Homo sapiens: one gene and its partners. The protein of the gene in region 6 purifies or fractionates together with the protein of the main gene of each other region. This does not show direct contact. Each region holds a gene or a part of one and is shown on either strand. Other genes may lie near its edges.

The links.
Region 1: the proteins of GAK (region 6) and SPTAN1 purify together in Homo sapiens (affinity purification with mass spectrometry; one large-scale study listed by BioGRID and IntAct). This does not show direct contact.
Region 2: the proteins of GAK (region 6) and CLTA purify together in Homo sapiens (affinity purification with mass spectrometry; 2 studies listed by BioGRID and IntAct, with this or other methods). This does not show direct contact.
Region 3: the proteins of GAK (region 6) and AAK1 purify together in Homo sapiens (affinity purification with mass spectrometry; one large-scale study listed by BioGRID and IntAct). This does not show direct contact.
Region 4: the proteins of GAK (region 6) and SEC16A purify together in Homo sapiens (affinity purification with mass spectrometry; one large-scale study listed by BioGRID and IntAct). This does not show direct contact.
Region 5: the proteins of GAK (region 6) and STON2 purify together in Homo sapiens (affinity purification with mass spectrometry; one large-scale study listed by BioGRID and IntAct). This does not show direct contact.
Region 7: the proteins of GAK (region 6) and PARP10 purify together in Homo sapiens (affinity purification with mass spectrometry, with the first as the bait; one large-scale study listed by BioGRID). This does not show direct contact.

Annotation. Positions count from the first base shown.
Region 1 is NC_000009.12:128,575,911-128,580,086, reverse strand, and holds part of SPTAN1 (spectrin alpha chain, non-erythrocytic 1), read right to left. Parts: intron 3,265-4,176; coding exon 3,131-3,264; intron 2,959-3,130; coding exon 2,814-2,958; intron 2,736-2,813; coding exon 2,581-2,735; intron 1,978-2,580; coding exon 1,842-1,977; intron 451-1,841; coding exon 349-450; intron 1-348. UniProt on the Homo sapiens protein: Fodrin, which seems to be involved in secretion, interacts with calmodulin in a calcium-dependent manner and is thus candidate for the calcium-dependent movement of the cytoskeleton at the membrane.
Region 2 is NC_000009.12:36,200,605-36,204,780, forward strand, and holds part of CLTA (clathrin light chain A), read left to right. Parts: intron 1-3,463; coding exon 3,464-3,575; intron 3,576-4,116; exon of another isoform or gene 4,117-4,176. UniProt on the Homo sapiens protein: Clathrin is the major protein of the polyhedral coat of coated pits and vesicles.
Region 3 is NC_000002.12:69,514,319-69,518,494, forward strand, and holds part of AAK1 (AP2-associated protein kinase 1), read right to left. Parts: intron 2,729-4,176; exon of another isoform or gene 2,433-2,728; intron 432-2,432; coding exon 153-431; intron 1-152.
Region 4 is NC_000009.12:136,476,325-136,480,500, reverse strand, and holds part of SEC16A (protein transport protein Sec16A), read left to right. Parts: intron 1-1,670; 5' UTR 1,671-1,792; intron 1,793-2,816; 5' UTR 2,817-2,885; coding exon 2,886-4,176. UniProt on the Homo sapiens protein: Acts as a molecular scaffold that plays a key role in the organization of the endoplasmic reticulum exit sites (ERES), also known as transitional endoplasmic reticulum (tER).
Region 5 is NC_000014.9:81,274,463-81,278,638, forward strand, and holds part of STON2 (stonin-2), read right to left. Parts: coding exon 2,439-4,176; intron 1-2,438. UniProt on the Homo sapiens protein: Adapter protein involved in endocytic machinery. Involved in the synaptic vesicle recycling. May facilitate clathrin-coated vesicle uncoating.
Region 6 is NC_000004.12:869,588-873,763, forward strand, and holds part of GAK (cyclin-G-associated kinase), read right to left. Parts: exon of another isoform or gene 3,714-4,176; intron 3,639-3,713; exon of another isoform or gene 3,481-3,638; intron 1,318-3,480; coding exon 1,124-1,317; intron 1-1,123. UniProt on the Homo sapiens protein: Associates with cyclin G and CDK5. Seems to act as an auxilin homolog that is involved in the uncoating of clathrin-coated vesicles by Hsc70 in non-neuronal cells. Expression oscillates slightly during the cell cycle, peaking at G1.
Region 7 is NC_000008.11:143,979,876-143,983,952, forward strand, and holds part of PARP10 (protein mono-ADP-ribosyltransferase PARP10), read right to left. Parts: intron 3,937-4,077; coding exon 3,292-3,936; intron 3,191-3,291; coding exon 3,057-3,190; intron 1-3,056. UniProt on the Homo sapiens protein: ADP-ribosyltransferase that mediates mono-ADP-ribosylation of glutamate and aspartate residues on target proteins. In contrast to PARP1 and PARP2, it is not able to mediate poly-ADP-ribosylation.

The DNA of each region.
Region 1 (4,176 bases), on a different chromosome or scaffold from region 6:
CCTGCCTTGGCCTCTGAAAGTGCTGGGGTCACACCACACCTGGCCTATGTATCATTTTATAAAAATTTGTTTCCTCTTTGCTCCAACTCCTAATGCAAGACTCAGCTCCCTACAGAAAGTCCCTGTAAGTAGGAAACATGCCACACATGCCCCAGATAAGGAGGACTGTCTCTCAGGAAATCAGCACACTATACATATACCTTCTTTTTAAACCTCTGCAGAGAAAGGAAAGTTTCTCACATATCATGGTGAATGCGTTCTCTGGATATTTAAGGATGAATAATAGCTTTCAGAGACTTAGTGAAAGGTGTAATTTGCTCCTCAAAAGCTCCATTTCTCTTCTCTTACCTTCTCCCTCACTTCATCTGAGGCATAGTGACCAGCAGCAAGCAGTGCCTGTCCAGATTCATCTGCAGATTTGAAGCTGTCTTCATGGGCATCAATTTCACCCTACAGGAGAAAAAAACAAAGCCATGATTTGTGCCCAGCATCTTACAAAATAAAAACAAGGTGCTGAATTTTACATAAGCATTATAAGCCAGACTATGACATCTAAAATGAGAAACAAAATGAAAGATTAGGCCAGATTTCCTAATACATAATCAGTCTAGGTCATCAAATGTGAGAGTATCACTCACTGATGAAATCCTTTCCAAATGGCTTTTCAGGTCACCTGTCATTTGTCAAGGTTCCACACATTCACATGGGTCTGAGCTCTCTTTCATTCCAGGGCTCTGTCTTCTTTGTGCCAAATGGACTTGTTTACTATGATTTTATAGAACCTGGTAGGGCGAGTCCCTCCCTGGCCCCATTATGATCTTCAACATTGTCTCAGCTTTTTTTGAATTTTTTTCTTCCAAATCAGTTTTGGAATCAGCTTATCTCATTGCAAAAAGAAACACACACATATACCTGCTGAGCACTTGACTGGAACTGCATTAACGGTATATATCCTGGTGGGAATTTACACCTTCACAGAAGATCGTTCCATCTGTGTACTAGATAAATCATTCTATCTATTCAGTTTTTATTTAATGCCTTTTAACAAAGTTTTATAGTTTTCTCCAGAAGTGTCTTACACTCTTTTGTTAGACTTATTCCTAAGTACTTTATATTTTCTGCTCTAATAAGTAGTATTTTTAAAAATTATGTTTCTGTTGCTAGTGTAGAGAAACATGTTTGACTTTCAGTATATTGATTTTGTATCTAGCACATTAAAACCTCTCAGAAGGTTTTTTTTTTTTTTTTTTTCTTTGAGACAGAGTGAAACACTCTTGTTGTCCGGACGGGAGTGGAATGGTGTGATCTTGGCTCACTGCAACCTCTGCCTCCCGGGTTCAAGCGATTCTCCTGCCTCAGACTCCTGAATAGCTGGGACTACAGGCGCGTGCCACCATGACCAGCTAACTGTTGCATTTTTAGTAGAGATGGGGTTTCACCATGTTGGCATGGATGGTCTTGATCTCTTGACCTCATGATCCACCCGCCTCAGCCTTCCAAAGTGCTGGGATTACAGACATAAGCCACCGTGCCTGGCCCAACAAATACTTTTTACATCACAAAGGATCAATGTGCCAAGTAGTAGCACTTCTATCTCGCCAGAGCTTGTCTGTTTGCTTTTATGGACCACAGTGAACCTCTTGACACTGAACCCAGTTAAGCCTCTATCAGAAGCAGGTAGACCAGGTCTCCAAAGGCAAAACCAACCATAATCCTCATGATGAGAAACACCTGTGAATAACATGGTACCAACGCCGACTATAGGCCTCACCCAACACTGATAAACTGGTGCATTATAAGCTAAAATCTTCACTTCTGGAAGATTCTAGAGATACCATTACCTTGTGCTCTTGGTGTCTATCTAGCAGGGCTTCAGCCCCAGCCACATCACTGGCAAGCTCATCTGCATTGATGAGGGCTTTCATCTCAGTCACCCAGCTGGTGAGGTCACGGAAGTCAGCAAGGAAGCGTTGAAGCCTAGGGAAAACCAAAGGAAGACATTATGTTTCCAGCGGAGGTTCCAGGGTGGAAAATGGCCTCCCTAAAGCTCTGAATTCTATGTTCTCAAATGTCTAACAAACTATATAAATTCTAATTCTGGGAAATATGAAAATTTCCCAATCTAGACTGTGAAGGAAAGCAAGAGAAGGCTGAAATCAACCCTTTAAAACTTAGGTTCTCTCCATCACTATAATGCCCCAATCCTGTCCCACATTTTCAACTTCCTTGTTATTCCCAGGTTCAACCCTTGGCTAGCAAGGATTCTTTTCCTTTCTAATCCTGGTTTTAATAAGATATTTCATGTGATACTCAGATACTTAAAGGGACATTCCCATTCTATCAATCATAATGCAGTGATGCAGAATAGAAGAATTTATGAAGTTGTAAATACCATACGTATACTACACATGATACAGTTGCCAGTCTCCAAACAGAGAGAACATAGGTAAGAAGTGATTTGCATTTGTAGGTGATACCTGACACTTTCACAGAACACAGAACAGACCCTTAACTCTGCTATTCCTGCTTCCAAAAAAGAAGCCAAATGATACTGGTTAAGACCTGGAGCATTATTTGCACCTGTATGAATCATTGAGCCGTGCATGTCTCTCTGCCGCCAAGGTGCGGATCTGCTCCCAGTTTGTAATCAGTTCCTCTCGCTTCACTTGAATCTGTGTTGCACTCAGAGGGTGGGACTGTTGCAGGCGGTCAGCCTCAGCACACAGGGCTTTGACCTAGAAATGAACTCCGTCAGAACTATTCTCCTGACCCTTGGTAACTTATTTACAGAATCAGCTGCTTGTAAAACCCACCTTGTCTTCTAGAGCAGCAAGATCTCTCTCCAGACCCTCGTGCTTCCGAAGCAGAGCCTGAACACTTGCCAGGTCTCGGCCAAAATCATCAGAGGCCATTAACTGCTCCTTTTCCTTAATCCAACTGATAGTCTCATCCACATCCCTACAGAACAAAGGCACCAGTTAATCCACAGCAATGATGACTCCCTAGAACTAGGAACACCCCATGGGACCAAGGCCTAGTCAGCCTCGACAGCTCACCAGCACATGCCCTGTGCTTCACAACTCCCCTCCAGGTTGAGACCCATTCCCCAAAGCCCACTCTGGCTTGACACCTGTTAAAGCGCTGAACTTCTGCTGCCCCAAAGAGCTTCCCCTGCCTCTGCAGAGCCAGGCCCTTCAGCCGCTGCCAGGCTGCATTGACTTCATCCTGCTTAGTCTTGATCAGTTCCTCCTCAGGGTGCTGCTCCTAAACAAGGAAGAGAAGAGACTGGATTTGTACACAACTTCTGGCTCCTCCAACTAGTTACCCTGGGGTTGGTTCCTTGAAGCATCTCAGCAAATCACCACTCTGAAGAGAATCACAAGAAATAATGGTCAACATGATACAAAGTGAACTACAACTCCAAAGAGTTTCTATTTCTTATGTAAAAAGGGGAGAGCCATTCTCTATCTTTTGGAGTAGTGTGGTTAGTCTATAAGGTGGTTATGTGCAAAAGTGCCAAAAACCTTTATGTTAATAAATAGTTTGGCAACAACTGTGTGGTAACTTTATCAATGTACTCATCTACCCTAACTGCTTGAAAATTTGGTATTTCAGATGTTCATGAGGCTGTTAAGCATTCTTGCACATAAACATAATTTTCGGGGCTCAAGAGTTTGTCCCTGGCTTTAGACTGACGACATTTCTTTTTTTCTTTTTTGAGACAGGGTCTTGCTATGTTACCCAGGCTGGTCTCAAGTGATCCTGTCTTGTCAGCCTGAGTCTGAGTAGAGTAGCTGGGTCTATAGGCAGGTGCCACTGCATCAAGCTTAGAGACATTTCTTTAAAAGTATCCTTCCCTACCAACCACATTTTGGTGTTTTAAAAAATATGATACAAAGTAATAAAATGAAGCATTTCAGGGTTCTTGAATCCATCTGGGATACCATGGGTTTGGCCTGACTACTTTTCTCAAGCTCAACCGCAGGAAAGCTTAGGGTTTGGAAAAGCAACACATCTGTCACTGTGGAAGGGTGAGATATTTCTGAGGAATGCCGGGTATCTTTCTCTTAATCACTGGCCAGAAAATGGAAACAAGTACCAGCCTATAAGCAGATTTATACACTTAAAATTTGTACCCCCCAAATCAAATTTCCCTAAAAGTAAAAACTCTCTGGT
Region 2 (4,176 bases), on a different chromosome or scaffold from region 6:
CAATTTAGGTGGCTTTCAGAACAAAGAATGCACTTAGTATTTGAACCTTTATAGCACCATTCATTAGTGATTTCTTTGGTGGAAATATTCTGTATCTGTGCTGTCTCGTATGGTAGCCACTAACCACATGTAACTGTTAAGTACTTGAAGTGTGGCTTCACAATTCAAGTGTGACTGAGAAACTGAATTTTAAATTTTCTTTAATTTTAATAAATTTACATTGAAGTAGCCACATGTAGCTAGTAGCTACCATATTGGACAGTGGAGCTGTAGGAAGATGAAAATAGGTCCTAACAGCTTTGGTCCTTGCTTGTTCTTTGTGTCTCTTGAGTATGCTTAGAGGCAAGATTTAGCTGGTCTTAGTACTGCTGTAGTATTTTTCATGTTACAGAACCCAAATTTATCTTTTCTGTTTTACCAAGCTCTAGCAGTTTTTCTTCTCCATGGAGAGAGTCTACTTTGGTGTCTGGAAAGATTTAATTTTTCAATTATGAAATTGGGTACTTGGGGAATACTCTTATGAGCTGTTTTCTTAATTCAAAGTGCTTTTTTTGAGAGAAGTACAACATTTGGCCTTGCATTCCAACTGAATTGAATTCACTTGGTTCATGAACAAGGTGTTCCTTCAATTTCACCTTTTTTCCTTGCAAAAACTGTGAGAAAGCACGCGATGCTAAAAATAGAGAACCGGTGCCAGTGGTTTTCAGCCTAGCTGCTGGCTACATTCTCAAGTAATTTTCTTTTCTCTGACCAGTAACGAGGGTGGCCAGAAGGGAAGGCACCTGTGAATGTGCTTTGCTCTCTAAGGGGACTCTTCCTCTTCATCCTCTGAGGGGAAGAATTCTAAATTAGTATTGCAGTGGCACTAAAGCTGCAAAAGCCAGAAGACCAATTTAAATGTACTATTTTATGCAGTAACCACAGTCTGTTCAGGAGGTCACCATTTTTATTTAATTTCATTTTTCAGAGATAAATTTTATATTTTAGTCCTAATGTATAGTAAATGTTAACATCAAAATACATTGAAAGAAAATACTGTCCAATCAAAAAGGTAATTATTTGGAAGTAATTTCACCATGATTGAAAAGGGGGCCTTACATTTTGAATTAGGTATTGTCACATGGCACTTCCAGCCCACAGCTTCTCATTGCAGCATAGCTAAATCTTGCATTCCACATCTGTACTTCATGCCATGGATAGACACATATTAGATGTTTACTGTAGAGGCTAGGTGGTGTGGCTCAGGTCTGTAATCCCAGCACTTTAGGAGGCTGAGGTGGGAGGATCACTTGAGCTCAGGAGTTCAAGACCAGCCTGGGCACCATAGTGAGACCCTATCTCTACTAAAAAAAAAAAATTAGCTGGGGGTTGTGGTGCACGCTTGTGGTCCCAGCTGCTTAGGAGATTGAGGTGGGAGGATCACTTGAGCCTGGGAGATTGAGGCTGCAGTGAGCTGTGATAGAACTACTGCAGTACAGCCTGGGCTACAGAGCGAGACCCTATCTCAAATAAAACAAAAAAAAGTTTACTGTATATACTTTAGAGTCATCAGTGAAAAATCTGAGAAAATGATTCTTCTGAACGACAGATCACCTTCCGACAAATTAGATACCGAGATGAACGTTCCTACTAACCTGAAACTTGGGGGAGTTTCTAGCTGCTATTAGGCTTTTTCTTATAGTTACACACAGCCTTTTGCAGGTTGTTACTATAAGACCTTTCTTGCAAAGGCCCTAAAAATGCCCAAGAATACTTCATTTTTCATCCCTTCTAGTAGTTACTTGACACCGCTACTGCTATCTACTCTCCTTCTCAAAGACACTAATTACAGTTTGGGCTCTTGGTCTGCACTTTCAAAACTCTGTCCAGATCACTGGTGGTCACGTTTTGTGATTATTTCTAGGCTTGCCTCCCTTTCTGTCCCTCCCTTTGGAGGAAGCATAATGAGGTAAGCAAAGTGTAAGCTTTACAGCCAGATCTGGGTTTGAATCTTGGCTCTGTCACTTACTATAACCTTTAGGAAATTCACTCAAACTTTCTGAGCTTTAGTTTTTCTCACTGCTGAAAATGTGATCAGAGTTTACCTTCTTGGGATTGTTGTAAAGATTGAGTTAGATGTCTATAAAACACCTGCCAGACAGAAGAACTTGTTTAAAGTGAAGTATCAGGTTAACTTCAAGTGTCAGCTGCCTCAGTAGCTATGACATGTATTTCTTTTTTTTTTTTTTCTTTTTTGAGACAGAGTCTCACTTTGTTGCCTAGGCTGGAGTGCAGTGGTGCGATCTCAGCTCACTGCAACCTCTGCCTCCCAGATTCAAGCGATTCTCCTGCCTCAGCCTCCCCAGTAATCCCCAGTAGCTGGGATTATAGGCATGCACCACCACATCCAGCTAATTTTTTGTATTTTTAGTAGAGACGGGATTTTACCATGTTGGCCAGGCTGGTCTCGAACTCCTAACCTCAGATGATCCACCTGCCTCGGCCTCCCAAAGTGTTGGGATTACAGGCGTGAGCCACCACAAGCAGCCGGCATGTATTTCTTTATCTCTCACTATCTACTGATGTATGTCTCTTCAGCTTAGTGTCTTAGAGAAAACCATATTTAGTCCTCAGAAACTTCATGTTTCATGTTTGAGAATCCAATCTAGCAAACCTGCTAGGTATGCATTTTCTTGCTGTCATTTCTAGAACCTTTAGGTTAACTGTTAGCAATGATCCCATACCTCTACCCCCTGCACTTCTCTCCAGTGGAGTTTCTTTTGTAGCTCTGCCCTGGCTCTGCCACAAACACACTGCAGACCAAGTAGGAGTAGATGCTTTGTGGTCCTCTCTAGTGCTAATATTCTGTGTTCTATCATTCTCTGGTTCCTGAATCATCTCTACCTTTGGTAATTGTCCTAATAGCACCCTGCCTCACAGAAGTGCTTCTACCATATTTAGTTATGAGAGTGCCACCTTGTGTTCCACAAAACCATTGTCAAACCTGGAATATGGACTAGTTTGGGAGAAGAGGTAAAAGATTAAGATGAATACCCTACTATGAACTAATATTGGCAGCATTGGTAAAGAATCATCTATAATTGTTTCTCCCCCAATTGGTGCCCAGAAGGCTTTTTTCCTATTAATAATAGAAGTCAGTATTTCCACATACACCCTTCTCTTTTGCTCTGCCCAAAACAAGACAAAACAAAACTAATGACCCACTAAGATGTCAGTGGACTGGGATAAGACCAGGAATAGGACTGTGGGAAAGACCAGGCAGGAATAGAAGCACTGAAATCAGAGTTGGTTGTGCAAACAGAGAAAACAGAAGTTTATCTTCCCCTCTCTACTCTTCTCCCCCAACAGGCACACAGACATGGACCTGCACCCACCACAAGTTCAGCAAGACCAAAATAAACTGATGAACTTCAGTTTGCACTTTGCCTCAATTGTATTGTCTTTCTCTTCTCTCCCTTCAAAGATGCCAATTCTCGGAAGCAAGAAGCAGAGTGGAAAGAAAAGGCAATAAAGGAGCTAGAAGAATGGTATGCAAGACAGGACGAGCAGCTACAGAAAACAAAAGCAAACAACAGGTCAGTCCGTGGTGGTTGTAGCACACTTTGTTTTCCAAAATTGAATCAAATCCATTCTCAGCATCCAGTCTCGGTTTTTGGCTTCTGCCTCCTTTAGTGTGAAATGTCTGCAGTTTTTAAAGAAAGTGCTTGAAACAGGTTGCAAGTCTCTCGGGTCTTGTGAGCATAATTCACCCTATTGTTTAGCCATCCCAATTGTAGTGAGCTTAGCTCTCTGAGAGTTTGGTTAATATGCATAACCTGTAATGGTGTGATTCAGCCAAGGGAAAAGTTACTTTCCATGGAACCCTGAAACGAAAGCTGGGTGTCATGAATACACCCAGATCTAGTTACTTTGGATATGATTATAGACTTGGTCATGTTGAGTCTCCTCAATATAGCCCTGCCCCCTGAAAGCCACTTCATGAAGGGGTCCGTTGGCAGGAATATGTGCTTTGTAATTAGGCAGCCAAGGATGTTCCAACATGATTATTTTAGAATTGAGGGTTCTGTGGGTACTTATTTGTGCCTTAAAAAGTCTTGAATTGACTTCTTAAAAATGTTCTGTTTGAAATAGATTTTATTTAGTTACTGATGGTTAAGGAGTTGTGAGGAGAAAAAC
Region 3 (4,176 bases), on a different chromosome or scaffold from region 6:
GATATATCAAGGAAAGATCAAATAATTGAACCACCCAGGTGGGAAAGCAACCTGGACCCTCATCAGCTGCTGCCATCTTTCCCACCCTTCCCCTAGCTCTCGCTGCACATTCCTCTGCTGCTTTTGTGCTCTGAGCTCTGGTTGATTCTTACCGCTGGCTCCTGGGCAGGGGCTGGCTGTGGGGCTGCAGCTGGCTGTGGCTGGGGCTGCTGTCCTGCTGCCATAGTGGGCTTTTGCTGCAAGGCAGCCTGCTGAGTCATCAGCTGTTGTTGATGCAGGGCTGTGGCCAGCTGTTGCTGTTGCTGTTGTTGTTGCTGCTGCTGCTGCTGCTGGTAGAAATTCTGCATTAGCTGCTGTTGAGAGCCTCCTTGGGACACCACAGGGAACTGAGCAATTGCTGGTTTCTGGGTTGCTGGATGTACTGCCTGAAACTGAGCAAGAAATGAGGAGATGAATAAGGGCCTGTCCCAGAATAATAGTCACAAAAGACAAATGTCTCAAAAACAATGAAGACCAGTGCTAAAGCCAAAGGCAAGGGCAAGTAGAAAAGTCTTGAGGCTAGGCCTAAAATCTCATGATAGAGACCTCAGGGAATTAAAATACAACACAGCAGCAGTCCCTTACACTGCTAGGCTCCATCCATTGCACCAGGCTGCCTCCTGCACTACAGACTGGCCTTCCAAGTGGGTTTCTGGGCCTTGCCTAAGGGAAGCTATCTGACTAAACATCATGTGACTCCATAAGCTAGAGTATAGCAGGAGCTAATAAACGATCTCCTAATCATAGAGGTAATCCTTCTTATAAAGGGATTTGAAGTAGCCAAGATTAAAATGCTTCCCTACCTGAACAGGATGAAGCAATGATGACACTGAAAAGAATAACCTAAATGTTAACTCAACTATTAAGACTCATCTCAAGTCTTACTAAAAATTATTTCCCAAGAGCTCCATTTTTATTAAACTTCCTTAAACATTCAAAATAGCCAGTGTGCTCTATGACGCTTCCTTTTGTTTGTTTGTTTGAGATAGTGTCTTGCTGTGTTGCCCAGGCTGGGATGTAGTGGTGCAAGCAATCTCGGCTCACTGCACCCTTGACCTCCTGGGCTCAAGTGATCATTCCACCTCAGCCTCCTAAGTACCTGGTATCACAGGTGCACACTACCATGCCTGGCTAATTTTTTTTCTTATTTTTTGTAGAGACACAGTCTCACAATGTTGCCCAGGCTGTCTCGACCTCCTGGGCTCAAGCAATCCTCCCGCTTCGGCCTCTGAAGATGCTGAGATTACAAGCATGAGCCACTGTATCTGGCCCACACTTCTTATATGTCTCTCTAATCCCCACTGTTAGGGGCTATGTGCTACATACACAAACAGAGCTCAAAATAAGGGCCTGCTGATGAACTAAGGTCAACACTGTATCTTTGAACATCCCGTATACTTTACGTAGTTATTAGAGTCAATTGGGAGGATACTGTTTGTCTACTGGGGCAAAGTTAAAGGGTTAACAAATTAGAAGATGTCAAAAAAAAAAAATAGCTGCCTACTTATAACAGCAAAATACTGGAAACAACCCAAATGTCTATCAACAGGAGACTGGCTGATTAAATATTTATGATAGATATATCCTGAAGGAAATATCTAATAGAATACTCTCAAGTTGTAAATAAGAATGAGCAATACCACTATATATGGGTTGGTGGGGATGGACTTTTGCAGATTTAACTCTGAAACTATGTAAATGTTTCACATATCCACAAAACAGAATTAAACTAAAATTTAAAAAGCAATAACTAAAAATCAAAAGCAAAACAATGCATATAAACCGGTGTATCAAATTGGTAGCTGAACGCGCCAGAAAATAATGTGCTAAACATTCTAAGGGTAAAATGGGCAAGGAAATCTTAAACTGTTTTCAGTAATCATATGGTTATTGCTATCTTAAAACGATAGAACAATTAATTATCTATGTTAATGCTGTTAAGAATCAAGATTTCCAGAAAAAAAAAAAAACAACAAAATCCAAGAAGTTAAACAGAAATCCAGTAATTACAAATCCAAATTAGGAATATAAATCCGAATTCATAATGCCTATTCTCCAACAAAACAAAACAAAATATATTTTCTAATTGTCCACTGAGAAGGCCTAGAAACAACAAGCAATCCATTAGGCAAATGGTATTTCTAGCATCAAAACTGTGGTTTCTAAACATTATTTGCACTAAAAAGAAACAGAGCTCCTAAGAAAAATGGATGATTTCAAGTTGAGGGCAGCATGATCCTAGAGGGCAGCATGATCCTAGATAGCAAGGAAATCATTAAAGACCACTGGAGTTACATTCAAAGGATTTAGGAGCCAATTTGAAGAGACTTCCACTGGCCAAAGTTGGGGCAATCTGAGCTTTAAAATAAATACATTTTTTAAAACTGCAATATGCCAGGCATGGTGGTGTGCACCTGTAGTCCCAGCTACTCGGAAGGCTGAGGCGGGAGGATCGCTTGAGCCCAGGAAGTCAAGGGTTGTAGTATGCTATGCTAGTTGGGTGTCTGCACTAAGGTCAGCATCAGTATGAGGACCTCCCGGGAGCAGGGGACCAGTAGCCTAAGGAGGGTTGAACCAGCGCAGATTAGAAACGGAGCAGGTCAAAACTCCAGGGCTGATTAGTAGTGGGATCCTGCTTGTGAATAGCCACTGCACTCCAGCCTGGGCAACACAGCAAGGCCCCACCTCTAGTAAAAACAAAACAAAAAAAGCAATGTATTCAAAGATATCAAATATGTTAAAATCTAAGAATTCCTAATGATACTAACTAAACTAAACAAAACAAAAACGTCACTGTTCACCTTTGGATGACAAGAGGGAACAAATTTATTACTCTGAAAACCAGTAAACAAAAGGAAAGAATCAAGTGTTTTTCCTGCCTTTTCTGTACAAACAGTACCTCAGGGTAGCTAAAGAGCTGATGAAAAAATTTCTTCATGGAAAACGTCCAGCCCTCAAATGAAGAGGGAATGTTAGAATATCACTGTGCCATCCCTGATGAATTAAGGAACTTGGCAAATGATCAGTGATACCTGCTAAGCTAATGGGGAACATTAAACAAATGGATCAGACAGACAACACCTCAATACACCGATTGATCTTTTTTTCTTCCTTTTTTTAAAAATATTTTTGGGAAACGCAGTCTTCAGGGAAATCTGAAAGTACACGCTCCCTGATCTTAATATCAGTGAAATAGAGGCCAGAGAGACATTACAGACCTCCTGACATGATGCAACAGGAAGAACAAAGAATTGTCAAACTGAATCAAATACTGAGTAAGCCTCGAGAAATTACCAGTGTACACGGAAGACGGTCAGACACATCAAATGACACCATAGCATGCAATCAGCTAAACCCAGAATGCCAAAAATTCCAAGGGACAAATAATCCAGTTTCTCCGAAAAATTAAATGACAAAAAGCAAAAAAAAAAAAAAAAAGAGGAGAGGGAACCTATGGATAAAAGGGGACTTAAAAGATATATCAGCCAGCAGCCGCATAGGCTAATGTGTGTAATTCCGATGATTTGGGAGGCTGAGGTGGGAGGATGGCTTGAGGCCGGGAGTTTGAGACCAGCCTGGGCAAAATAACGAGACCCCCATTTCTACCAATAAAAATTAGCCAGGCATGGTGGCACATGCTTATAGTCCTAGCTACTTGAGAGACTCAGCTGGGATGATCACTTGAGCCCAGGAACTGGAGGCTGCAGTGAGCTATAACTGCACCACTTCACTCCAGCCTGGGAAACAGAGCAAGACCATACCTCCAAAAAAACAGATATACTCATCATTATAAAATGAATACATTCATAGTAAAAAATGTGAAAAAAATATATGAAAAGATAATGGAAAACAATATAGACCAACTAAATACAATCTGTTAGTATTGGATACTGATTCAAACAAGCCAACTTAATTATGAGATATCAGAAACAGTTAAACACTAATGGATATTTGATAATAAGAAACTATTGTTATTTTTTCCTCTCTTATGATAATGGTGTTACAGTTGTATTAGAAAAAAGAAGAAAAAAAAGCAGTCCTTAAAAAAAAATAGTTTTTTTTTTTTTTTTTTTTTTTTTGAGACAGAGTCTTGCTCTTGTTGCCCAGGCTGGAGTGCAATGGCACGATCTCGGCTCA
Region 4 (4,176 bases), on a different chromosome or scaffold from region 6:
GCATTTTATAGACAAAAATACATTGCAGAAAGAGGAGTGGCTGCCTCGAGCCACTCACCTGGACACTCAGTTTTGCTCTCACAGCAGCAGCCAAGGAATAAACCTCTAGGCCCGTGCTCTGTGTTTAAAGCAAACAAAAGCTTTTGAGGATGATAAGGATCTTCCCGGGGAAGGCCATGTCTTGAGAGATGAGGTAGGACCCCAGTTCTGGCAGCAGAGTTTCAGGAGGTGCTTGGAAGTTTGCGTGTTCTGGCCGTGGTTGCAGGTGTCGCTGTGTCTGCTGTGGCTGTGCAGCTGGTAGGACCCAGTGGAAGATAATGCCAGTGCACAGATCAGAGGAAGATGCTCTGCCTGTTCTCCTTTCAGTCCATATAAAATAGAGCTGTGAACATTCTTTGTTTTCAGATGAGAGCCTAAAACCTCCATGAAGCCTTTGCTGCTGTTCCTAGTAAATAGCTTGACTTAAAATACATTGATCAGTGTTTTCTTCTTTTTTTTTTTGAGACAGTTTCACTCTGTCGCCCAGGCTGGAGTGTTGTGGCTTGAACAAGGCTCACTGCAGCCTCAACCTCCCTGGCTCAAGCGATCTTCCCACCTCAGCCTCCCGAGTAGTTGGGACTACAGGCACGCACCACCACGACCGGCATTTTTTTTTTGGTGATGGGGTATCGCTGTGTGTTGCCCAGGCTGGTCTCAAACTGCTGAACTCGAGTGGTCCTCCTACCTCCCAAAGTGCTCGGCTTACAGGTGTGAGCCACTGCACCTGGCCAGTGTTTTCTTCTTTTATCTGAATATCAGAAAGATTTCCAAGAGACCAAAATAATATACATCTGCAAAGATGTGTGGATTGGCCAGGCACGGTGGCTCACGCCTGTAATCCCAGCACTTTGGGAGGCCGAGGCGGGTGGATTATGAGGTCAGGAGATCAAGACCATCCTGGCTAACATGGTGAAACCCCATCTCTACTGAAAAGACAAAAAATTAGCCTGGCATGGTGGCAGGTGCCTGTAGTCCCAGCTGCTCAGGAGGCTGAGGCAGGAGAATGGCATGAACCTGGGAGGCGGAGCTTGCAGTGAGCCGAGATCGCACCACTGCACCCCAGTCTGGGCGACAGAGCAAGACTCCGTCTCAAAAAAAAAAATGTGTGGATTAAACTACAGAGTCCTCCCCTTTGGTTTAATTTTTCCTTTGATTGGCTAAACTTATCTGTTTGTTCATGAGGGTGGTGCTGACAAGAAGAAAGACTGATAGAAAGAAAAGAACTTTCCTAAAGATATAGTCCTTGAATTTTTGCCTTAAGAGGCCAGGTTAACTATTCAAGTTTGTATCTACTATGTTTTATTTAAAAACTGATGGAGGTTTTTGCCCCTTTCTTTTCTGTAAGAGGTTTCTTGGCAATTCTGCCTGTTGTTGAAAGTGTTGGAATCCAGTCTGTGCCTTGTAAAGCTGCTTTAAGTTTCCTGGGAGTTTCCATTCCAGGCACAGTTACGGCTCCAGTTCAAAGGTAACATCTTGCTGGTGGTCCTTTCAGACCTTAAGCCAGTCACAGTACAAAAACGGAGACCTATGAAGAGGTGTGATAAAAGGCATTTAGATGAATATATTTATTTTGCAGTGCTTTTTAAAAAAATGATTGTGTCACTTTTTATTTATTTATTTTTTTAAAATAGAGACCGTCTTGCTCTGTTGCCCAGGCTGGACCGCGGTGGTATAATCATAGCTCACTGCAGCCTCGAACTCATGGACACAAGTGATCTTCCTTCCTTAACCCCCTGAGTCCCTGGGACTACAGGTGTGTGCCACCATGTCTGGCTAACTTTCTTCTTTTGTAGAGACAAGGTCTTGCTATGTTGCCCAGGCTGGTCTCGACCTCCTGGGCTCTGGCAGTCCTTCCACCTTGACCTCCCAAAGTGCTGGGATTACAGGCATGAGCCACTGCACCCAGCCTATTTTGCAGCTTTTATAACTATACTTCATAATGCTCTTTCATCAAAGAAAATGGAAGAATGAATTTTAAACTTTTGTATCCCTTTTGAAATTTAAAATTAACATGTATGGAAAGTATGATATAAAGTTTTCCTTTTTTTTTTTTTTTTTTGAGCTAGGGACTCACTGTGTCACCCAGGCTGAAGGGTAGTGGTGCTGTCATAGCTCACGACAGCCTCAACCTCCCAGGCTGACGCAATCCTCCTGCCTCAGCCTCCTGAGTAGTTGGGACTACAGGTGTGCACCACCATGCCTGGCTGATTTTTGTATTTTTTGTAGAAACGAGATCCCCCTGTTGCTCAGGCTGGCCTCGAATTCCTGGGCTCAAGTGGTCCTCCCGCCTTGGCCTCTTAAAGTGTTGGGAGTACAGGCGTAAGCCACCATATCTGGCCAGTTTTTCTTTCTTAATAGAAGAGTTGGCTCTTCCTGGATCTAGGGATGGTTTACAGGAAAACATTGAGTATCTGTGGGTCTGGTAGCATATCACAGCAGTGGTCAGGTTCCGCACTGTCCCTGTTGTTGTGGCGCGGGTCTGCGGCAGCAATGGGCCCTGTGAGTAGAGGATCCCAGGGGAGGGAGTGGCCATCTAGACATACTCCATCAGCTCGCAGCCAGGCCATCCAGGGTTCTCACTCTGTCCCCTGCCCCCCAGAACAGTTCCTCAGGGACAGGTGTTCTCTGCTGGGGTGGGGTGTAGGGGAGAGAGAGTCCTTGGGATTTAAGTGACATAAAATCATGTTCAATGTTTCTCTTTTTCCTTAGTTTTCCTGATTGCAGCTAGGACTTTGAATATATGGATTTTATGCTGATTTTCTCTTTTTCTTTTCCAGCTCCAATTAAGGAACAGCTATATCCTGCTTCCTTCTGTAAGCAGCATCGACTTGTGCAAGGGTTCAGTCATGCAGCCACCGCCCCAGACGGTCCCGTCTGGCATGGCTGGGCCACCTCCAGCCGGGAATCCTCGGAGCGTGTTCTGGGCTAGCAGCCCTTACAGGAGACGGGCTAATAATAATGCAGCAGTGGCTCCGACAACTTGCCCGTTGCAGCCGGTCACGGATCCATTTGCTTTTAGTAGACAGGCGCTCCAAAGTACACCACTGGGCAGTTCGTCCAAAAGCAGTCCACCTGTCTTGCAAGGCCCAGCCCCCGCAGGGTTTTCTCAGCACCCCGGTTTGCTTGTTCCTCACACACATGCCAGAGATAGCTCTCAGGGACCCTGTGAGCCCCTGCCTGGACCTCTGACACAGCCCAGAGCACATGCCAGTCCGTTTTCTGGTGCATTGACACCTTCAGCACCTCCTGGGCCTGAGATGAACAGGAGTGCAGAGGTCGGTCCCAGTTCAGAGCCTGAAGTTCAGACTCTGCCATATCTTCCTCACTACATTCCAGGAGTGGATCCTGAAACGTCTCATGGGGGCCACCCTCATGGGAACATGCCTGGGCTCGACCGACCCCTGAGCAGGCAAAACCCACATGACGGTGTGGTCACCCCAGCAGCATCCCCTTCCCTCCCTCAGCCTGGTCTGCAGATGCCAGGACAGTGGGGGCCAGTGCAGGGAGGCCCACAGCCCTCGGGGCAACATCGTTCACCCTGCCCTGAAGGACCTGTTCCCAGCGGGGTGCCCTGTGCCACCAGCGTTCCTCATTTCCCCACCCCGTCCATCCTACATCAGGGCCCTGGTCATGAGCAACACAGCCCTCTGGTGGCTCCCCCAGCAGCCTTGCCCAGTGACGGAAGAGACGAGGTGAGCCACTTGCAAAGTGGAAGCCACCTGGCCAATAACTCTGATCCTGAAAGTACATTCAGGCAAAATCCCAGAATTGTGAATCACTGGGCAAGCCCAGAGCTCAGGCAGAATCCAGGAGTGAAGAATGAGCACCGGCCCGCCTCTGCTCTTGTGAACCCCCTCGCCCGGGGAGATAGCCCAGAAAACCGTACGCACCACCCACTGGGGGCTGGGGCCGGGTCTGGCTGTGCCCCGCTAGAAGCAGACTCAGGAGCTTCAGGAGCTCTGGCGATGTTTTTCCAAGGGGGAGAGACAGAAAATGAGGAGAATCTCTCATCTGAAAAAGCAGGCTTATCTGGTCAAGCGGACTTTGACGATTTCTGCTCCAGCCCTGGGCTAGGCCGTCCGCCCGCACCTACACACGTGGGGGCAGGCAGCCTCTGCCAGGCCCTTCTCCCAGGCC
Region 5 (4,176 bases), on a different chromosome or scaffold from region 6:
CTGAAGGCCTGGTTTTGCTTTTTCCCTGTCCTGTATCCATCCTCCCTCTCTTCTGGTAGCAGTCTTTTTCTTTCTCTCCTTTTGGGAAATAATCTTCCCCGGTGCTACATGTTGTCTTGGTGGTCACGTCAGTCAAAATGCACTCCTCTCCCCTAGTCTCTTGAGCCAAGTTGCAAAAGTACAAAAAATAGGGCCAGGTGCGGTGCCTCAGACCTGTAATCCCAGCACTTCGGGAGTACGAGGCAGGCGGATCACCTGAGGTCAGGAGTTTGAGACCAGTCTGGCCAACATGGTGAAAACCTGTCTCTACTAAAAATACAAAAATTTAGCTACTCAGAAGACTGATGCAGGAGAATCGCTTGAATCCAGGAGGTGGAAGTTGCAGTGAGCCAAGATCGCACCACTGCACTTCAGCCTGGGCAACACAGCGAGACTTCATTTCAAAAAAACAAACAAACAAACAAACACAAAAAAACAAAAACAAAAAATAGTCTGTGATGATTTGTCCTAAGGCTACATGCTGAGGAGACATCCATTAGTCTCTATGACCAGAGCTACTCTAGTGCTGTCTGTCTAAAGTCTTCTCTTGATCAGTCTTTTCCTCAGGTCTCTGAGCTATCCTATCCAATAATTTGTTTTGTTGCTTAGGGTAGCCGATAAGTCTTTGTTGCTTATAATAATAATAATAATAAACCTTCATGCAGTACTTTTAAATGTTTGGGAGAAATCACTTTGAAACAAATAGATACGTTTGTACATACTGGAAAAACTGCAAATATCTGTTCTTCTGGTGGAAATTATTTCAATATTTGTGTCTATTTGGCTTCATCTACCAGGAGGCACCAGTGATATATTAAGAAAAGGACCCTGGATGTGACTGCATGACTCTCTAGATACGTCACATCACCTTCCCGACCTTAATTTTCTCATCTATAAATAACTTGACTAAGTTATTCAAGGTCCCTTCCAGCTTGAAAATCCGGTAATTCCATGGTTGTCTCTTTCCAAGGGCTTCCGTGTCAAAGGAGAGTTCAGGGTTTTCTCTCTTCCTCTGTCAATTCAGAGGGGCCCCGTGGATAAGGTAGAAGTTACAGTGCTACCACCAGCAGAAGACAGTGCTGATTTCAGGGGAAATGAATAAGCAGGCACAGAGAGGAACACTTGGTTTTAAAAATTCTGTCAGTTTAGAAGTAGGGAGTAGCAAATCCAGCCTCAAACACAGAGATCCAATTGTCTCTTCAGTTTGCATAGCTACACCCAGTGTCTGATACAGAATGCCCTGGTGTGTGTCCACTCCCTGGACTGCCTGGGGAGCTGGCCCGATTATACTGCCGTCGGCCGTCACATTGCATTACACTTAGGATATAATAATACAGACACTCCACACTCAGAGCGGGAGAGGAAGACTCTTAACACACTGCTACGATTTATAGTGAGAATCTAAGAAAGGATAGCCACATAAGAGAAAGCCATTTCACTCAAGAGTTTTTCCAAACCTTATCCTTTTTGCTCAGCTAGCGTATCCACTTTCGTTAACAGATGGGCAAAATGTATTCTAAACAAGAAAAGAAGGGGTTTAATGGCTTACAAGATCATGGGCTTGCTGCCTACCATTGGGGTCACCCAGACATACTCTAAGAAATATGTGTATTAGTGCTGGTTTGACTGCTCCCTCATTTTGTCATTTCACTAAATCTCACGGGACCCACGGGGGAAGTAATTGCCTTCTGGACTCACTCAAGCACAAAAGCATCCCTGATAGCTGCGAGCAGCCCAGCTAGGGCTGGTAAGCATTTTTTTGTTTGTCTAAATAAAACATTCTTTTCTTTATATTTTGTCTGCTAGACTTCTGGCCCTTTTAGAAATTCATGTCCTAGCTGGATCTTCAGTCTGATTGAAGGCCACTTTTCTTTCCCATCCCCCAGTCCCAGAGCCAAAGTCTGAATGTGAGATATTATGACTAACAGACCCTGCACAGGGTAGCTGGAGTCGTAAAATTAACCTCTCAGTGTATTGTCCATGATTGGCCATAAACTGGCCCTTTTACCTACATCGAGGGCAGTGTGAGAAAGATGTCTCTTCAGAAGCCATCTAGAAATGAATCACTTCCAGCACCACAGCTAATACGTTAATGAGTCCCCAAAGAATATAAATTCAGAAGCTGCCCTGAAAAGCTGCTTAGCAGCTCAGCTGAGAAGAATAATCCCTAGTTTTATGGAAGATGTGTGATAATGAGAGGGTGAAAAGACAGAGTGAACTGGGTCACTATACGCATTACTTACCTTGCTCAATTATTTTTACTTTTCTGGTCCCACTCCCCCTCCATCACCACTCCCATCACACAGCAAAAACAAGCACTTCATACAGGATGTGGAACTTTGATCTCAGCTTTTTCACAACTGTATGTTTGTTTTCACAGAAGAGGAACCACCACCCACCTGAGTTTTTGTCCGGCAGTCGGTTTATCCTCCACACAATGGAGTTGAAGGCATGCTCGTACTTGGCAGTTCCCAGAGTTACTCTCATGACAGGCTCAGAGCCAGAAACACTAGTGGAGCCAAAACTTGCCCCCCGGTTCACTTTGGCTTTCAAAGACTTTTCCCCCAGGACACTTTCCCTGCGGAAGTTTTTCACCCACTCACTGGGCACAGGGTAACGGATCATCACATTCTCACAGGGAACCTGAGTGAGGGGGTCACGATTGGCGGAGAAGCCAGTTGACATCCTCAGCCAGCTCTGCACCTCCACCTCTGCCCCATTGACACTTGTGGCCGTCCTGAGTGTGAAAGGCAAGGTCTTCTCAGCAAACACTGTCCTGAACCGCATTAGCTCAAACCGGCACGCATCCAAAGGGTTGAACAGAATGACCCGTGAGTTGTGGAAAACATCCTCATCCACACACCCATGGAAACGGCACTCATGGAGCTTGATCCACTTTGTGGTGGTGGTGGGCATGATGTCCTGCCTCAAAACTATTTCATTCCCTTTGACGAGGATGTCATTGAGGCCCAGGCGGCACTCTGCGAGCCCAGACAGGAAACTCAGGATGTGGATCCGTGTCAAGACATGGTGCTGGAGAATCTGGTTGTCTCCTTTGCTCACAATGCCAGAGAATTCATCTCTGACATCCACTGTAATCTCCTCTTCAAGGTAGTTGAGGCCAACTGTGCTCAAGTCCATTGACAACACTGGCAGATCCATGAGACGGTCCTGAACTGCATGGATGAAACTCAGGAAGTCATCGTAATTGGTGGTGCCCAGCTTAATCACCTGTTCCCTCTCTGCTGTGTGGGCCACAGCAGGTTTGGGCTGGTATTTCTTCTTCTCTTTATAGGTGACACGGTCTATCCGCAAGCTGTGGATTCTGCCATTCTCATCATAGTTTTGAAGCCGGGGTTCTGAAATCTCATGACAGATCTCCAGCTTGAACTCACGGAATGGTTTTTCTAGGCCCTGCTCATAATACAGCTGCAGGTAACCAGTGTCTGTCAGTTTGACGAAGATCGGTCCCCAGTGCCTGGAGGACATGATGTTTTTCTTCTCAGGGATCCTCAACATCATTGGCCACCCGTCACGAGGCTGGGACCGTGCTGATCCAGGCGGGTGAGCATCTAGTTCAATCCAGGCTACTGGGTCATCATCAGGTAGAGTTGCACTGCCAAAGTGATCAGGGTCATCAATTTGGAGTTGTTTGAGTTTTTCAACAGCATCAGAGTGTGACTGGGTTTTGCTTGAATCATCAAAACTGATGGCATCCTGGTAGATGACAATGAGGGAATCTCTTTGGCTTTTGCCCGTGGTACTGGAAATGGAACTGTTTTGGGAGCGCCTCTCCTGCTCCTCAAAGAAAGCACTGAAAGGGTTGATAGGGGAGGGCTGTACATCCTGCAGAGTCTCATTCAGGAAAGGGTTGGTTGCCCTCCAAGGTGAAGCCTCAGTTACAGAAGGCGTGCGGTTTAAAGAGGAAATATCCAGCTTCTGAACTTTGGAGAAGTTCATCAAAGTGCTCTTGGGACGGTCCCTCTTCTTAAATGATCCCATTGAATTATAAGGTACATCTGGGATCACAGATGCACTTGGTGGTGTATTTGGCTTCAGAGGAGAGGTGACTGGTGGTAAAGGGCAGCTGACTTCATTGTCATCAAAGGTGACCCAGCTGGGAAAACGAGCAGAGGT
Region 6 (4,176 bases):
AATGCACACACAGCACATACACACATGCAGGGTACACATGAATGCACACACACAGATGCACAGTACACACGAATGCACACACAGCACATACACACATGCAGGGTACACATGAATGCACACACAGCACACACAGATGCACAGTACACATGAATGCACACAGTACACACAGATGCACAGTACACACGAATGCACACACAGCAGAGATGCATGGTACACACAAATGCACACACACAGGCACAGTACACATGAATGCACACAGCACACATAGATGCAGGGTACACATGAATGCACGCACACAGATGCACGGTACACACACATGCACACACTCGGATGCACAGTACACATGCATGCACACACACAAATGGACGGTACACACGAACGCACACACAGCACATACCGATGCATGGTACACACGAACGCACACACAGCACACACAGATGCACTGTACACACGAATGCACACAGCACACAGATACACAGTACACATGAATGCACACACCACTCGTGCACACACACACACGGCACACACCACCCACGGACACATACACAGCACGCACAGGTCACACATACAGCCTCTTTCAGGGACGCTGAAGATGCTCAGAAAGAAAAAGCAAACACTGCAAACCAAGAGCCGAGAACAAGCGTGGCATGAGCAGTGGACGGCCCTGGGCCCACCTGCCAGCACTTCCTGGGCTGCCGTTTCGAAACTGCTCGGAAGTGAAGAGCGACAGGAGCGAGGGTTCTGTTCCACATGCTGCCAGCAGGCCTGAGGCTCACAGTGAGAGTGGACGTGTGTCCAGCACACATGACAAAAATCTGACCCAGACACACGCCTGGGACAAAACCCCGCTTCGCTCCAGGAGCCTGGGTTTTCCTCCCTCTGCCTCCGTCCCTGCCCATGGGCCTCAGAAATTGCAGCCTGCGAGTCCTTCTCTGGTGTAGCTGGTGGTGGTGTCCAACATCCACGACGGAGTTTCCAAAACCTCCTGCAGCCCAAGCTGCTCAGGGCCTGGGTGCAGCAGCAGGCGTGGGGCCCAGCCCTGCCAGAGCTCAGCCAAAGGTGTCTCTCTCCACAGAGACACTCACCAGAACAGGGTTCACCTAATTCACCTGCGGGATCTTACCAAACTTAGACAGAATGTCTTGCTGCTCCTCCCGGCTGGAAAACAGGATTTTGGGGTTCAGCCCCCTCATGCTCGAGTTCTCCCATGGTGGGGCTTCCCGGCTCGGCCTGTCCCTGGGCTCCACCTCCACTTCCAGGTTCACTTGAAATAAATCCGGGTATTTTTCTTGAATGTCACACGCGTCCAGGTCATACCTGCGGTTACAAGTAGACACCACTTAGGAAGGCCACCCAAGTAGTCTGTAAGTCCTTGGACATTCACTAAAGAAACGTGCATGGAAACAGGTGGCAGCTGCAGGCAGCGGGGCGAGAACAACCAGGGCAGCCGGCCACCCCCGCCTGCGGAAGCTGGAGCCCTGTGAGCTGACCCAGCAGCTGTCCCAGGAACCCACAGGGCACCAGCACCCCCGGTCACGGCCCCAGAAGAGCATCATTTCACTCGCTCCTCGGACGTCACAGTGGGGATGCCCGCGACTGTGTTCAAGGCAGAGGGGCACCGGGCGGGGCCGCCATGTTTCCTGCAACTCCAGGGGAGGCCACGTGCTCAGAGCAGACGGGACAACATCCCACAGCTGGAGACTCCGGCACCCAGGCAGGCAGCTCTGAGGTGGGACCCCAGGGTTCCAAGGCAGGCGCTGGCCCTCACTACCCAGCACACACAGACTGCAGCCACCCGGCAGCTCAGAGCACGCACTCTGGGATACTAAATGTGTTTTCCATAAAAATGACGACGTCCGCCCTGACAAAAATCCACAACTGTCAACAGATGCCCATAAAACCAAGACCTCTAGAATCCGGCTGCCAGGGAATTGGGAACATGATTCCGGGGGAAACAAAGCTGTGTTCACTGTGGGGCTGGGGAGGCAGCCCAGGCTGAGCTGTGGGGAGCAGGGCAGAGGTCAGCAGGGCCTGCCTTGGGGTGTCGGCCGTGCGGGTGGGGAGCAGGGCAGGGGTCAGCAGGGCCCACCTTGGGGTGTCGGCCATGTGGGTGGGGAGCAGGGGCAGGGGTCAGCAGGGCCCGCCTTGGGGTGTTGGCCGCACGGGGAGGCAGGTGTGACCTGACACTGACCATTTCCCAGCCCCACAGCTCTCTAAGGAATTCCAGGCTATTTCACACATTTCCTATGATCATCTCTGATCCCACTGTCATAAACTGCACTGATAAGCCTGGGCTCTCCAGCGGGCAGCAGGCTCCCCATGCCTGTCTTATTTTACGCCACCTAAAATCTCTACATGTTGAATGTTATACACCTAAGAAAATAAAGAAGAAACACAAAAGAGTGGCGGCCAGTTCCTGGGAAACCCAGGCTGCCAGTGTCTGCAGGGCCAGGAACACCCAGAGCAGAGTGGGATCCGCCGAGGGAGGGCAGGGAGACGGGCCCGGCGGCCTGTGTGGGTCAGAGCCACGGCTGGTTTTAACTGTCACTTCTCTGAGCTCCACACATGCCTGTGATGTGTGAAAGGCCTCTAGTTCACCCCTTCCTGCTCACCCTCTAAAACATCCTCTCCCTGCACGAGGGGAGAGCACCCTGTGCCCGCCCTGAGGGGTGGCCAACCTCACGCAGAGCAGCGCCCCCTCAATGCCCACTCAAGGCTCTGGGCGGAGGTGGCCACGGCCGAAGCCGGGACTGATGTGCACTCCAGCCGGGGCCAACACGAGCTTCCCCCTGCGCCCGAGCCTCTTTGCGTGCCGCTGTCTGTCGTCAGGGGTGGCAGGGACTGCACAGCGGTGGCACAGCTGGCGTGGAGATGTGGAGGAGGCAACGTCTGCAGAGGAGCCTGCAGGCACCAGCAGAGAATCCGACGGCCACCGCAGCGGAGGCTCAGACCGGCCACGACCGAGGGCGGAGAGGCACAGTGGGAGGGGCACGGAGGGAGGGAGTGTGCAGGGAGCCAGGTCGGCCAGACGGGCTTGGGTCCTGGGACAGACCGAACTTGGGCAGCCCCAGAGGGAGTGCCGCTCATGCCCAGCCTCCCTCCCCCAGCTGCCCCTTGAGATGGCCCTGGGCACTGGGCCTGCAGGCTCGGCTCACCCAGCCTGGCGCTGAGGGCACAATGAGGTCTGTGAGCAGGGCTGGCCACTCCCGAGAGCCCTGGACTGCAGAGGACACTGCCCGCAGGCTCCTGCCAGACTAGCTCCAACAGGGCAGAGCGGACTCCTGACAGGCTCAGCTGTTACATCTGTGCCATGGCTGCAACCCTGTGCTCCTCTCGCCCAGGCACGGCGCAGGCTCACCACGCAGGGAACACGCCTCTCGCCCAGGCACGGCGCAGGCTCACCACGCAGGGAACACGCCTCTCGCCCAGGCACGGCGCAGGCTCACCACGCAGGGAACACGCCTCTCGCCCACAGCGCAGCCTTGATCTCGCAGGTTCAAGCAATCCTCCTGCCTCCCAAAGTGTTGGAATTACAGCTGTAAGCCACTGTGCGCAACCAACCTTTCTTCCTTTTAATGTATGCATTTGAAGTTACACATTTCCTCTAAACCCTGCTTCAGATGCACCCCACACATCTGGTAAGTGGTATTTTGATTATCAATGTGTTTAAAATATTTTCTCATTTCAACAGTGATTTCCTTTTTGGCACACAGGTCACTTAACGAGCATACGGTCTCTGGGTGTTTTCCTGTCACTGATTCCCACTTTAATCCACTGTTGAGATGCCTTGAGACTTGCTGTATGACCCAACGTGGAGTCCACTTTAATAAACGCCCACTTGAACAGATGCCATTTCTCCAAGTATTCGCTGAAGTTTGCAAAACTCAGGTCAAGTTGGTTAAACCTTGTAAAAAAAAAAAAACTATATCCTGTTCTTGTCTACCTGTTCCACTGCCTGGGGAGAGAGGCGGCCATCAGCGTGGGCCTGTCAACTTCACCCCTCCTTCTGCCCTTTGTGCTGCCTGTACTGAAGCCATGTCACTGCCCTCGCCCCTGCAACGTCACCCGTCACCTCCTGCCTTGGTCTATCCCACCTGATATGGACAGTGACACCAGCCTTCTTCCTGTTATGGTCTGCATGGTAAGCAATTTCCAATTATTCCACTTCAGCCTTGC
Region 7 (4,077 bases), on a different chromosome or scaffold from region 6:
GTGGCGGGCGCCTGTAGTCACAGCTACTCAGGAGGCTGAGGCAGGAGAATGGCGTGAACGCAGGAGGCGGAGCTTGCAGTGAGCCGACATCGTGCCACTGCACTCCAGCCTGAGTGACAGAGCGAGACTCCGTCTCAAAAAAAAAAAAAAAAAAAACCCGTCTCAGCCGGGCGCGGTGGCTCACGCCTGTAATCCCAGCACTTTGGGAGGCCGAGGTGGGCAGATCATGAGGTCAGGAGATTGAGACCATCCTGGCTAACATGGTGAAACCCCGTCTCTAATAAAAATACAAAAATAAGCTGGGCGTGGTGGCAGGCGCCTGTAGTCCCAGCTACTCAGGAGGCTGAGGCAGGAGAATGGCGTGAACCCGGGAGGCAGAGCTTGCAGTGAGCTGAGATTGCACCACTGCACTCCAGCCTGGGCTACTGAGTGAGATTCCGTCTCAAAAAAAAAAAAAAAAAAAAAAAAAAAAAAAACCATCTCTACTAAAAATACAAAAAGTAGCTGGGTGTGGTGGTGTGTGCCTGTAATCCCAGCTACTTGGGAGGCTGAGGCAGAATCACTTGAACCCAAGAGGTGGAGGTTGCAGTGAGCCGAGATCATGCCACTGCACTCTAGCCTGGGCAACAGAGAGAGACACTGTCTCAAAAAAATTATATATATAAATGTATATATTAATATATAAATGTATATGTTTAAACATATATGTTCACATATACGTAAATTTAAAAGTCAAATATGTTTAGCACCCACTCAAGGAGATACTCCCACTAAACAAAAGAGTCTGTGCCAAAAGGTGACAAGCGGGGTACTGAGTAACCCGGTGGTCAAGAATGGCCTGGAAAAAATGAAGAAAGTCAAAAAAAGAAAAGCCATTAGCCTTGAATCCTAGAACATCTTTTTTACAGAACAGAATTTTAATAACTAGGATTTCACTTCTCTTTCTATGGCTCAGTGGTAAATGTTTTTTCATTATTATAGTATGTCTACCAACCTATGGCCCACGCATGGAGGCTTTGTGATAGTTACAGAAACCTTTACGACATAATAAAAATAATGTAACTGACCAAATTGAGATGGAAGATGAGGGAGGAGGCAAAAGAGAGAGAAGCGAGGCCCATTCTCCTCATCTTCCATGCGGGAAGGCAAGAAACAATCTCTAAAGCTGTCAAGTGAAAAAAAAAAATTCAAGCATACCATTTAAAGTCATCAAGGTGCTCACTAAATTCAAGCATACCATTTAAAGTCATCAAGGTGCTCACCGGAAGAACCAAGTACGTATAATTAACAAAACCACCAGGATATGAGGTCAGTGCGTCTGGGTGGTGGTGATCCTGGTGGCGGTGAGCGGTGACGGTGTGTTGGTGAAGCTGACGGTGACAGTGGTGATGCTAATGGTGGTGATGATGGTGGCCACGGTGGTGGTGGTAGTGGTGGTGGTGATGGTGGTGACGACAGTGAGTGGTGAAGGTGATGGTGATGATGGTGGTGACGACAGTGAGTGGTGAAGGTGATGGTGATGATGGTGGTGACGACAGTGAGTGGTGAAGGTGGTGGTGATGATGGTGGTGACGACAGTGAGTGGTGAAGGTGGTGGTGATGATGGTGGTGACGACAGTGAGTGGTGAAGGTGGTGGTGATGGTGGTGACGACAGTGAGTGGTGAAGGTGATGGTGATGATGGTGGTGACGACAGTGAGTGGTGAAGGTGGTGGTGATGATGGTGGTGACGACAGTGAGTGGTGAAGGTGATGGTGATGATGGTGGTGACGACAGTGAGTGGTGAAGGTGGTGGTGATGATGGTGGTGACGACAGTGAGTGGTGAAGGTGGTGGTGATGATGGTGGTGACGACAGTGAGTGGTGAAGGTGATGGTGATGATGGTGGTGACGACAGTGAGTGGTGAAGGTGGTGGTGATGATGGTGGTGACGACAGTGAGTGGTGAAGGTGGTGGTGATGATGGTGGTGACGACAGTGAGTGGTGAAGGTGGTGGTGATGATGGTGGTGACGACAGTGAGTGGTGAAGGTGGTGGTGATGATGGTGATGGTGATGGTGGTGGTGATGACAGTGAGTGGTGAGGGTCATGGTGATGGTGTGATGGTGGTGGTGATGGTGATGGGGTGATGGTGATGATGGTGGTGATGATGGTGGTGAGGGTCATGGTGATGGTGTGATGGTGGTGATGATGGTGGTGAGGTCTGGGGACAGCCAGAGGTTCTTTTTGCATTTCTGACCAGCTCCTGGTGGAGGGTGATGCTGCTGGCCCCACGCACAACTTTGGGCATCAAGAGTTGAGAGTGCCCCGTGCAAGGCCGGGCGCGGTGGCTCACGCCTGTAATCCCAGCACTTTGGGAGGCCGAGGCGGGCGGATCACGAGGTCAGTAGATCGAGACCATCCTGGCTAACATGGTGAAACCCCGTCTCCACTAAAAATATTTTTTAAAAAATTAGCCGGGCGTGGTGGCAGGCGCCTGTAGTCCCAGCTACTTGGGAGGCTGAGGCAGGAGAATGGCGTGAACCCGGGAGGCGGAGCTTGCCGTGAGCCGAGATCGTGCCACTGCACTCCAGCCCAGGAGACACAGCGAGATGCCGTCTCAAAAAAGAGAGTGCCCCGCGCAGTGTCATCAGCACAGTGACCGCAGCGAGCCCGGGCCTTTCTGTGGAGGCAGAAGAGCGCCCAGAACAGCACAAGGGACGCATCTGTGGAGCGAGTAATCCTCAAAATGACCACAAGATGGCATCACCGCCCCATGCTCCAAATAAGGAAACTGAGGCCTGGAGCTGGTCCCATAGTCCCTGCTGACCCAGCCACGAGTGGCAGAGTGGGGACCCTCACTCAGGCCTATCAGATCCCAAGGCCCCCACTCTGTTCCCTCCTGTTTCCCTACCCACTTTGGGAACGCCCTCTGGGCAGAGAACAGGGCTGGGAGCCTGTCAGCTCCTGGTCAGCTGACCTTGATGTAGGCGAGAGGGACAGGCCACAGACTTGGCAAGGCGCTAATGGTGCAAGAGCCCAGGACGCCATGAGGCCAGAGAGACAGGGCATGGACTCACACGAACGACGCGGATGCTGCTGCGGGCAGCGTCCAGGGTGTCGTAGAAGGCCCGCACCACCTCCTGGAACTCCCCGGTGTTCTCTGCCAGACGCTCCAGGTTGTTCCAGGGCCCCTTCAGCGTCTGCCCCGCCACTGATGCATGGGGAAAAGCGGGGGGTCAGAGCCATGCCTGGGGCACTAGCCCCTGCTAACCAGCCCACCCCACCGTCCCTCAGTCCAGGAGGTAGACTCACAGGTAGGGCCTGAAGCTGCCAAGGGAAAGGCCAAACTCTGATCCCAGGGGCCAGCCAGAAGTGCCACCAAGTGGCGGGCAGCACGGGCAGGGTGGGCCCCGAAGCCACGGAGGATGGTGCAGTCACCACGCAGGGCAACACTCACACCATGGCACCGCTCCAGGCGAGCACGCAGCTCTGCAGGCAGTGTGCGGCGCCAGGGCCCCACCGTCTCCTCCTGGACGTGGACCTCCAAGGCAGCCCTGAGCGCCCGGTCCAGCTCCTCCACATCCTGCTCAAAGGCCGAGTGCACCACCAGCTGGGCCTTGCCATCAGTCCCCCCATCTGGGGGCTCTTCTGCCTCCAACGGGGGCTGCTCCAGCAGGGAGAGGGTTAGGGCTTGCCGCAGGGCAGCAGCCTCCTCCTGCTCAGCCACCTGACCTTGAGGCTCCAGTGACCGGTGGAGGGCCAGCTGCAGAGCGGCCTCCTCCTCCAGCCACCTGGGTGCCACAGTGCTGGGGGCCACAGGCTCCTCCTCCTCATGCCCTGGGGTCACCTCCTCCTCTGGCTGCTCCTGAGGCCCTTCCTCCTCCAGCTCCCGAGGCAGCCAGTCCTCCCCGTCTAGGTCTAGGCCCTCCAGGGTGGCCAGCAGTTCTCGGACCTCCTCTGGGGGCAGGGAGAGGCCATTGGGTCAGGGGCTGGACCCAGGAGGAGTTGGAATGGATGAAAGATGGGGAGCAAGTTTTTAGGGTACAGGGTGGGCCTAAGATGGGTCAGTAGACAGATGGGAGCACAGAGCAGGGCAGG